Linked DNA regions of Homo sapiens: region 1 is linked to region 2. The links come from fine-mapping of genetic effects on gene expression. Tissue or cell type: whole blood. Region 2 holds a variant in brackets; the other region holds the start of a gene. All regions are shown on one strand. Distances are between the middles of the regions. Region 1 holds the start of SGK1 (serum/glucocorticoid regulated kinase 1). Region 2 overlaps SGK1 (serum/glucocorticoid regulated kinase 1).

Region 1 (5,380 bases), 49 kb after region 2:
AGTAAGGAGAGCGCAGGGGCAGGAGAGATGTCTGATCCTGTCTCCAGCAACTGATAGACCCAGGTTAGAAGTTAGATGAAGCTGCCTGCCAGTTATCTTGGTAGAAACTTCTTTCTGCATGTACTCAGATAAGACATCAGTACCCTGGGTGGTTCTCTGCAAAATTCAAGGTCTGCAGAGTCACCAACTGAAGTCTATTGGTAAACTTGCTTTTAAGCAAAACAAAACCAAATGGCAAATTAGTATTTCTATTAGTACATTTTGATAACAAAGAAAATAAAAGACAATTTAAAATTTATGTAACTTAAATCTACATTGCTTAAGAACATCTGACTGAGGAGTTTTAGAATATCCCCAATACCATGAAATAAATACAGTAATTAAAAGGCAATAGAGTTTAAATACTGGATAATGGGCTATGGCATTTTTAAAATTAGCAAAACATTTGTTTATTATTGAAAATTAGGGCTGGGCCTGGTGGTGGACATCTGTAATCCCAGCAATTTGGGAGGCTGAGGCAGGAGGACCACTTGAGCCCAAAAGGTCAAGACCACCCTGGGCAATATAGCAAGACCCCGTCTCTAAAAAAAAGAAAAAGAAAGAAAGAAAATTAATTTTCATAAAGGGCTCTTCCCTTGGAAAGAAATATTTTAGCTACAGAGAAAAACTAAGAAGCCTTGTGGAGCTCTGTGAAGTTGCACTGACTTGCTTTCACTTAGCTTGCAGCTCACTAGTGAGATTTCACATGGTACTCCCACTCCAAGAGCAGGGGCCAGGACAGGTTGGTTTCATTTTGGTTTGAATGCATATGCTTTGGCCCACAGACTTGGAGAAAGATTTTGCTTTACTGATGAGAACTCAGTCAAGGGTGCTTGGGAGCCTTCGCTGGCCCTCTAGCTGGGCCTGACATGTTGCCTGCATTTCTAGCCTTGCCTTCCCAGCTTGCCCATTTGGTGCAGGGAGATAGTCCAGCCCACCCTGAAATTCACTGTGTTCTGCGGATGAGTTAACTGAAGGGCTGTGTTTCAGGAGTGGCACAGAAAGGACCTGAATGAAAGGAAGGAGGAATGAATGGAGAGAACCATTTTGGTGGAATTGCCCTAGGGTATTAAATAGGATGGGGCAACTGGGGACTGGAGGATGTTCCTTCTCTTACGTTGCTTAGGAAACACTGTCCTTAAGAGTGTCAGTGTCATTCCTTTAACAATCATTCATTTCTTACCTCCCGCTTGTGTATAAATTTGCAGATTTACACAGACCACCAGTGTGGCCATCCCAGTGAACTGAGTTTATTGTGAAATATACATGCAAAAAAATCCTTTTTTCTCACCTACAACCAATGCAACATTATTCATACTTTGAGTTGAAGAATAAGGAGTTTAAGAAATAAATGCATACAGCAACATAACCCTGAATTATCACTCAAATACAGACCTCCCACTGCTCTCTCCCAAAAAAAAAAAAAAAAAAAAAAAAAAAAAGGCAGTTATTCTAAGCAAAAGCAAAAATTGAGGCAACTTAAAATAGACAATTTTAAATGCTGGATTCCATCATTTCTGTAAAAGGTCATTCTACTCCTTTGCTATTTATACCACAGATAGAGACACAGCAAATTATTGGCTGAATGGATTTGGGAAACCAGAAGCTGCTGCTTCTGACGAACGAAGATGATAATGCATCACTTGAGACTGAGTGGATGAAAGGTGTAGAAAAGTTGAACCCTTCAAAGATGAGAGGAAGCTGCTAAATTAGCCCCTGACTAAATTACTAGCCATAATTGTACTCAAGCCAGTTCTCTTTGCGACTGCCTTGTAATCTTTGTTGTGGCTTGAGAGAGAAAAATCCCCATTCCCAGCTCAAACCCGTTTAAGGCATCTCAGCCCAACCCCCTCCTCCCAATGCAACTCTTCATAGCCCCCTGCCCCTCCTCCAACAAATTCTAATCAAGTCAGGTATAGTTCTCAGCTTTACCACTGCCATCAGAAGCACGGCTTACATTAAGGGTTTAGCAACAAAACCTCAGGCTTACTTCAGGCAAACATTCAAAAGCATTTAAGAGAAGCACAGAAAACAAAAGAAATAAGCAAAACCTGTCCTTACCCGCTTCTTAAAAAATTGGAAGGCTGAGCATTTCTTGACTGGGAATCCATTCATGTCTTTGTTTACCATTTTCCACCGTGGGGAATTCACAGTTATAGATCCAGGTTGGCACCCGCCTGGTTAGTGCATATCTGTTTCCCCGGTTTACCTCCTGCAGACAGTTAATGAAGACTGAGCGGGATGGAGAATCTAGCGGGGCTCAGTTCTTCACTCGCGCATTCTGCAGCACCAGCTACTGCAGCAACCTCTCCCCACTTTCAGTTGCCACCGACAGCGGCTTTTCTCCTTCCATCATTGCTCCGAAACATATGCATCACCGCTGCAGGACCCTGGGGGCCGGACGGTGGGATACGGCCAATCTCCGGGGAGATGCTGTGGCTCTTACCGAGCGGGAGAAGGGTACGCCTCCCCGCCCCCAGCTACCTGGCTGCTCTTCCGCGGCCGGCGCGGGGAGCGAGTCGCTCTTCTCCAGGTGATGCGCTCCTGGAGGCGGCTTGAGAGAGGAGAGTTGTTTTTGATTGTGCAAGTTCCAGTGGGAGCTGTAGTTAAGCAGCTGAGAGAAGGAGTAAGAAAGAGCAGAAGCCAGAGGGAGGGAGGGAGAACAGCGCCAGAAAGGCAGAGGGAGCGAGAAGGCGAGGCTGGAAGAAGCAACGGTTCATGAATATCTGAGCAGCGGATGGAGAGAAGGCACAGCCGGCTCAGGGCACACTGAAGAGCAGTTGACTCCCCTTGGGAGGGTTACTTTAAATAGCTTCTTTTCTTTCTTTCTTTTTTTTTTTTTTTGGTTAGGACCATTTAAATCAGAGTTTCATATAAATTGCACACCGTTTTTATTTTATGCTCATTGACATTCTTTTGAATCCTGTTGCTGAATAAAAGCCTCTCAACGGAAATGTAATCACATTTAATCTCGACCTGTCCAAACGTGGAAGAAAATGAAATAAAGTGCAAGCGTAGGTATAACAATGGAAGATCTCTCACTATGTAGAAGCTCTTTTAGCCTCCCCTCCCCTACTTGTCATTATATAGTGGGCAATGGTGACGGTAATTGTGTCTTTTTCATTAAAACAGCTTATTAAAAAAAGAACACAATGAACATATACAAAGTACTTTATTACACACATACACACACACACGAGTTATTACCAAAAAGTACTACTGAATCCATTTAATGATGAGGAAGGTTTGATAAATAAAAGAGTAAAGCATTCTTCCTATTAGGTGAAAAATTTCCCAAAAAATCCTTACTCATGTTATCCTTTGCACACTGAGCTCCTTTTAAAAAAGCCATTTAATTGTATGTGGCTTATTTTTCCATTTTTATTCTTTAATGTTGATATTTTATGGGAATGATTTTAAAGATTAGTTGATAGTAAAGCAAGAAAGCAAAGAAAATAAACTTGGCATCTGACCTGGCAGAAAGCCACCAACATCGGTGTGTGGCTTTCTGCCATCACCTGACCTCACTGTGCCTTTCGGACACTGCCTCATCCATAAAATGGAGGCAGCCACTCATTCATTCATTCACTCATTCATTTATTTAGTCATTCATTATTTGCTATTTCATTCCATTAATAAATCTAACTCTGACAAGTGTCCTCAGGATGTGGAGCCTTTTCATAATCATCACAAGGGAATATAATTGATAAATAAGTGAAAGGCGCAATGCTAATTTGAAACTGATTATGACCTCATTATATATAACACACCTAACATTGTTAAAGTATTTACATGGAAGTCTCTGGTAAGAAGAGAAACATCAGGTTAAACTGGGAAAGAAATGCATGGGTTTCATTGAATTGGACTATAAATCTCTACAGTTGGGCCAGAGTTTTTGGGAATAAACATGAAATCCTGTTTGCTAAATGCCTTGAGGTTTCCAAAAAGAAAATGCAATACAACTAAATGATGGCATGATAACCAAGGGAAAACAACTATTCATTTTGGAGAGATATGTTAAGTTGTCCAAGATGCAAGTATATGTTATGTAATCTACAACATTGATAAGTTTTTGTGGTTCTTCTAAAGAGTTCATTTAAAATTATGGTAGTTCAAAGGGAATTATTTTGAGACGATGGAAGTGTTCTCTATCATGATGATGGTGGTGGTTACATAACTATGCATTTGTCAGAACTCATCAAATTTTATATAGGAAAAGGGAAACTTTTGCTGCATGTAAATTATACCTCAATGGACCTCATTTTAAAAAATGATGGTCATTCAAGTTCTTTCTTTTTCGTCCCATTGCCACTCCCCCAAAAGTGTTTTAACAGACATTTATTGAATTTGAGTAATATACAGGAGGGGACCTTTAAGCACTCTGCTAGGAAGGAGGTGCTGGGGCTTTGCTTAATCCCACATTGGCCTAGCATGCATACTGGTTGATATCATTTGGCTGTGTCCCCACCCAAATCTCGTCTTGAATTGTAGTTCCCACAGTGAGTGATTTCTCATGAGATCTGATGGTTTTATAAGGGGCTTTTCTCCCTTTTGCTCAGCACTTCCCCTTCCTGATGCCATGTGAAGAAGAATGTGTTTGCTTCCCCTTCTGCTCTGATTGTAAGTTTCCTGAGGCCTCCCCAGCCATGCTGAACTGTGAGTCAATTAAACCTCTTTCCTGTATAAATTACCCATCTCACTATGTCTTTATTAGCAGTGTGAGAACGGACTAATACCCTGGTTTCATGTAGGATGTATGTTCATTTGGGGTGCAGGCGGGTGGTTAATAGAGATTATGAGGGAGGAGAAGACAAGCTAAATGCTATCTTTTCCCTCACTCCATGCCACCTCTTGAAGATGCTGCCACTGTCACTTGGTCTATGCTAGATCCTATGGAAGGTCCAGTGCATGTAAGTGTCACTGGTTTTTGTCACCAAGGAACTCACAGCCTAGTAGAGAAATATACAGTGTGGTAAGAATACTATATACAGTAGTCCTCCCTTATCTGAGGTTTTACCTTCCACAGTTTCAGTTACCTAAGGTCAACAATGGTCTGAAAATCAGTGAGTACAATACGATACTTTTAGAGACACAGAGAGAGACCACAGTCACATCATTTTTATTATCGTACATTGTTAAAATTATTCTACTATTGTTGTTAATCTCTTACTGTGCTTGATTTATAAATTAAACTTTATTATAGGTATGTATGTACAGGAAAAAACATAATGTATATGGAGTTTGGTACTATCTGAAGTTTCACGCATCCATGGGGGGGGTCTTGGAATGTATCCCCCATGGATAAGAGTGTACTACTCTGTGTGTGTGTGTGTGTGTGTGT
Region 2 (5,380 bases):
ACCACATCCAGCCACAAGTGTCTTTTAATTGCTTTATTTATTTATTTCTTTATTCATTTATTTATATTTATTAAGATGGAGTCTCTGATTGTCACCCAGGCTGGAGTGCAGTGGCGCGATCTCAGCTCACTGCAGCCTCCTCCTCCCTGGTTCAAGTGATTCTCCTCCCTCAGCCTCCTGAGTGGCTGGAATTACAGGCACCGTGCCCCCACGCCCAGCTAATTTTTGTATTTTTAGTAGAGACGGGGTTTTGCTATGTTGGCCAGGCCGGTCTTGAACTCCTGATCTCGGGTGATCCACCCACCTCAGCCTCCCAAAGGGCTGGTAATACAGGCGTGAGCAACTGCACCTGGCCTATATGTACTCTTTTCAATAGCCATTTAAAATATCTTTGTGAGGCCGGTTGTGGTGGCTCACACCTGTAATCCCAGCACTTTGGGTTTGGGAGGCTGAGGCGTGTGGATCACCTGATCTCAGGAGTTCAAGACCAGCCTGACCAACATGGTGAAACCCTGACTCTCCTAAAAATACAAAAATTAGCTGGGCGTGGTGGTGCACACCCGTAACCCCAGCTGCTCCAGAGGCTGAAGCAGAAGAACGGCTTGAACCTCGGAGGCAGAGGTTGCAGTGAGCCTGAGATCATGGCACTGCATTCCAGCCTGGGTGAAAGAAGGAGACTCTGTCTCAAAAAAAATAAAATATCTTTTTGAGTTTACTATCCTAAAGTTAAAATTTTGGGTTTCCTTAAATATTTCTGTCACTATAGGGCCCCTTAAGCATGTTAGTAGGTATATTAAGAATGTTTCGCTGATTCATTAATGGAAGTCTAAATGAAACTTTAAAAGTTTGAGACTCCAATAGAATGTATCTTCTTAATGTTAGTACTAAATGTGTTTTTGATCAGTCTAAAAAGTGTTCAATTTCATTAGAGATGGATAATGTTTTTTATTATTCTTATTCAGATAGTTTTGGGCTTGAAGTCTGGTAACTGTTCTTGCTTTGTCTCCAACGTTGTAGTTTAAAATCAATCTTTTTACTCTGGCTTACTTTCAATGTCTCTTTTGCCAAGTAGATTTAACTTTAGGGTTACTGTGAACAGGATTTAAACAGATGATAAATCTATTCAAATATATTTGTAAGTTGTATGCCTGGACTAAGAATCTTTGTATCTTGAAATGTATATCTCCCCTGACTCCCTGAACACCCGCACTCTAGAGCTTGAGTTATGGCCAACAAAATAAAATTTTTTTTAAATATTCTTTTTTCATGTTATTTTTATTTCTTTTTGTTTTTTATTTTTATATTTTCTTTTTCTTTTTTTTAATATGTTACAGTCTGAATATGTTCATAGTGACTTTTCTGTTTGTTTGGTTGGTTTTTTTTACAGAGATACAGTCTCACTCTATTCCCTTTGTTGGAGGGCTGTGGCACGATCATAGCTCACTTCAACCAAGAGCTCCTAGGCTCAAGCTATCCTCTCGCCTCAGCCTCCCAGTTACCTGGGACTACAGATGCGCGCCACCACGTTCGGCTATTTATTTTTTGGAGAGACGGTGTCTCATTATGTTGCCCAGGCTGGTCTTGAACTCCTGGTCTCAAGTGATCCTCCTGCCTTGGCATCCCAAAGCTCTGGGATTACAGACATGAGCCATTACACCTGGCCAGAATAAAATTATTAAAGGGACATACTATTTATTTAATAAAATAAGTAAACTATAAGTAAGAAGGAAAATAAAGCATATGAATGATCAGGATCATTGCGGGTGGAGGGCTCAATTTTAAACAGTATGAGCCAGGATACTATCGGATACTCCCTCTCTGTCCACACAGAATGTAGCAAGGGATATGGAGAAATACTCCCTTTCTCCAGAAGCATCAGAGAAAAAGTGTTACTTACAAAAATGAATCCAGCAACACATTTCTAACCGGACTGTTGCTGAATTTTACTGCATGCTTTGTCTTAAAAAGGTTTTGTCTCCATTGGCTTAGTCCTTATACTGGCTTCAACGTGTCCCTTCTTTATGACTCCTTGACACTTTTCACCAGCTTTGAAGCCTCACAAGTGATTTTTACAGGCCCAATTAAGGACAGAGTTTACGATGTTTGCTTGCTCTTGAGAGAGTGGCTGGACCGACCCAGTGAATGCACAGGAGTTAGGCAAGGTGCCCTTCAAAACTGCTGAGTAGAGAAATCCTCCCACGGCCCCTCGGGGAATTCAAGCTACAACTGGCCCATTGTGTTTCCTCAGGCTGCGGATTGCTTT[A/G]CTGGAGGGAGTAGCTGACTGTGAGTGGCTTTGGGAGCCCTTCATAACAATGGCTGGAGGAGAGCTGCAGCAGCTGTGTGTGCGAGAAACACGAATGCCCGGATGCCAGCGGCAGCCTGGGCTCCTGGGCCTCCTGGGCCACCTGGGCCCTAGTTTTATTCAGAGCTACACAACTGTTTGTGAAGCGCATTGTAAACAAACATAGACGGGGTGAGACATCCTCTTTATCCTGAATAAATCAAGAATTCCCAGGCCGGGCGCTGTGGCTCATGCCTGTAATCCCAGTACTTTGGGAGGAGGCGGGCGGATCACGAGGTCAGTAGATCGAGACCATCCTGGCTAACACGGTGAAACCCCGTCTCTACTAAAAATACAAAAAAAATTGCCGGGCGTAGTGGAGGGTGCCTGTAGTCCCAGCTACTCGGGAGGCTGAGGCAGGAGAATGGCGTGAACCCGGGAGGCGGAGCTTGCAGTGAGCTGAGATCGCGCCACTGCACTCCAGCCTGGGCGACAGAGCGAGACTCTGTCTCAAAAAAAAAAAAAAAAAAAATTCCCTCACTTGGGGTTTATAGGAGACTGTTCTCCAAACCACACCAGACTTTTAGAAGCAACTACCTCTACAGATACCGGGGTGAACCAGTAAGGCCCTTCATTTAACTAGACAGAAACTGAGTGAACAGTGGGTAAACAAAATATTCAACCAAATTCTTTGCTAAATCCAGTCCACCTTGGTTTTATTAATGTCTTTACTTGGAAAAAAAAAAAAAAAAAGCCATCCAAAAGCAATCCCTCAGTCTAGAAAATTGCCAGATGTGATTAAAGAGATTGGCTGGCTTCTAGGGATTTTCCACTTGTGGTTTTTTCCTATTATCTAAGAGCAAACAGATATTACTATTAATTTAAAATAGTTTAGCTGATAATGATATCAACCGATACAGGAAAATTATAGAGAGTTTAGGTACTTAGGTGTGAACTCAGGTGGCAACACCTACTCTCATTGGCCCCCGTCCTTTTAGGGGGAAGAGCTGACTCTCTTAAAAAGCCAAGAGAGCTTGAAGTTGCCTTCTGTAATTTCCAAACAGGCATTTTTTTTTTTTAATTATAGAGAACTGACTTTGCTTACTTGACGCCTCAATAACTTTCAATTTCGAGAGAGTCAGCCCAGTTTTCTAGTGAAATTACTTGGATAGGTCAATAGATTATAAAAAGGGAGGCCAGGTGAGGTGGAGGCCGAGGCAGGTGGATCATTTGAGGCCAGGTGTTAAAGACCAGGCTGGCCAACATGGTGAAACCCCGTTTCTACTGAAAACACAAAAATTAGCCACCATGGTGGCGTCCACCTGTAATCCCAGCTACTAGGGAGGCTGAGGCAGGAGAATCCCTTGAACCCAGGAGCCGGAGGTGGCAGTGAGCCAAGATCGTGCCACTGCACTCCAGCCTGGATGAAAGAGTGAGACTCTGTCTCAAAAAAAAAAAAAAAGAGAGAGAGAAAGTAAGAGACCTGCATGCCTATGCCTCTCCCAGAGGGTGCATGCTAGCAGGTTAGTTACGGCATGAGTGTAATTTAGGAGAAGGCTCCTGGAAGCAAATTCATCTCACACTGATACTGGAGCCTGAAGCTGCTTCATAGCATGTCTCCTAAAATATAACAGTGCTGTAATATTCAGTAATATTAATCAGATATCTTCACCCCAGCTATATGTCATCATCATGTATCTGTCTTTTCTCTCTCTCTTTTTTTTTTTTGAGACGGAGTTGTACTTTTGTTGACCAGGCTGGAGCGCAATGGCGCGATCTCAGCTCACTGCAACCTCCGCCTCCCGGGTTCAAGCAATTCTCCTGCTTCAGCCTCCCGAGTAGCTGGGATTACAGACGTGTGTCACCACATCCAGCTAGTTTTGTATTTTTAGTAGAGACAGGGTTTCTCCATGTTCGTCAGGCTGATCTCGAACTCCTGACCTCAGGTGATCCATCCACCTTGGCCTCCCAATCCCAAGCCTGTTGGGATTACAGGCGTGAGCCACCGCACCAGGCCTATTACTGTCTTTTCTCTAGTGTTTGTAGTGTTTATTGCTTGTATAAAACAACAGGACTTTTATGCTAACTGGTCTTGATATTAAGCCTATGTCACCTTTCCAACTGGATCATAAGCATGAGAATAGCTTCTTAGGCCTTAGGAAAAAAAAAAATTCCAGAGGCTAGTGTATGGGCTTACAAACAAACTAGGTAATAAAAATAGGAATCTCTTGATTGCTTTTAATATTTACTTATAGATCTCAACAAGTTTTGCTAACATCCTCCATCAAGGTAATACAGATTTTCTATTTAAATATTTCTCTTTAACACGCAAGACCTATCCTGGAGCAGGCACCCTGAGAAGATGGAGTGACTTTTAGAATTCCCTGACCTTCTATGCTGTTGTCCTTGGGATCTCCCAGTCCTTTCCTCTCACCTTGACCTAGTTGCATCCTCTTCTAGATTCTCAGGGGCCAACCTGTGTCTCCAGGCCTAGTCCGGAGGATGGAGTGGTGGGGAGGACTCTGGGGAAGTGGGAAAACGGAGACGCAATGCGTCCATGTACCCTATTTAATGTTGCTGCTCACAGCAGGCAGCACCCCAGCTCCGTCTCTTCAGAGGACAGTGCTTGCCTGTTCTTCTAGCTCAGTAAGTATAAAGTCTCCCTCCTCATCCTCCCCATTGAGGAATCCACCCCACCCTGTCCCACCCCACCCCACCCTACACTGCCAAGTGTTAAATAGATAAAGTGCAGGAATTCATCAACGTACGTTTTTCTTTGGAAATACAGGTGAAGTTTTTCTCATTTCTTTAAATTGTGGGACTCTGCCAGGTGCGGTGGCTCATGCCTGTCGTCCCAGTGCTTTGGGAGGCCGAGGCAGGCAGATCACCTAAGGTCAGGAGTTTGAGACCAGTCTGGCCAACATATAGTGAAACTCCATCTCTACTAAAAATACAAAAATTAGTCGGGCGCGGGGGCACATGCCTGTAATTCCAGCTACTTGGGAGACTGAGGCAGGAGAATCACTTGAACCTAGGTGGCGGAGGTTGCAGTGAGCCGAGATTGCACCACTAGACTCCAGTCTGCAGAGTGAAACTGTC

Evidence for each region.
Region 1: it holds the start of SGK1, and the variant in region 2 is fine-mapped to the expression of SGK1 in whole blood (TOPMed, PIP above 0.99).

Annotation. Positions count from the first base shown.
Region 1 is chr6:134,315,292-134,320,671 of GRCh38, forward strand. SGK1 (serum/glucocorticoid regulated kinase 1) reads right to left here and starts at 2,821. Exons shown (of 14, transcript NM_001143676.3): 1 at 2,101-2,821. The coding sequence starts at 2,169. RefSeq lists an enhancer at 2,369-2,648.
Region 2 is chr6:134,265,930-134,271,309 of GRCh38, forward strand. The region is part of intron 1 of SGK1 (serum/glucocorticoid regulated kinase 1); the gene reads right to left. Among named protein-coding and RNA genes, the nearest start is that of SGK1, 49 kb to the right of the region's middle. The variant A/G (reference allele first, on the strand shown) is at 2,264.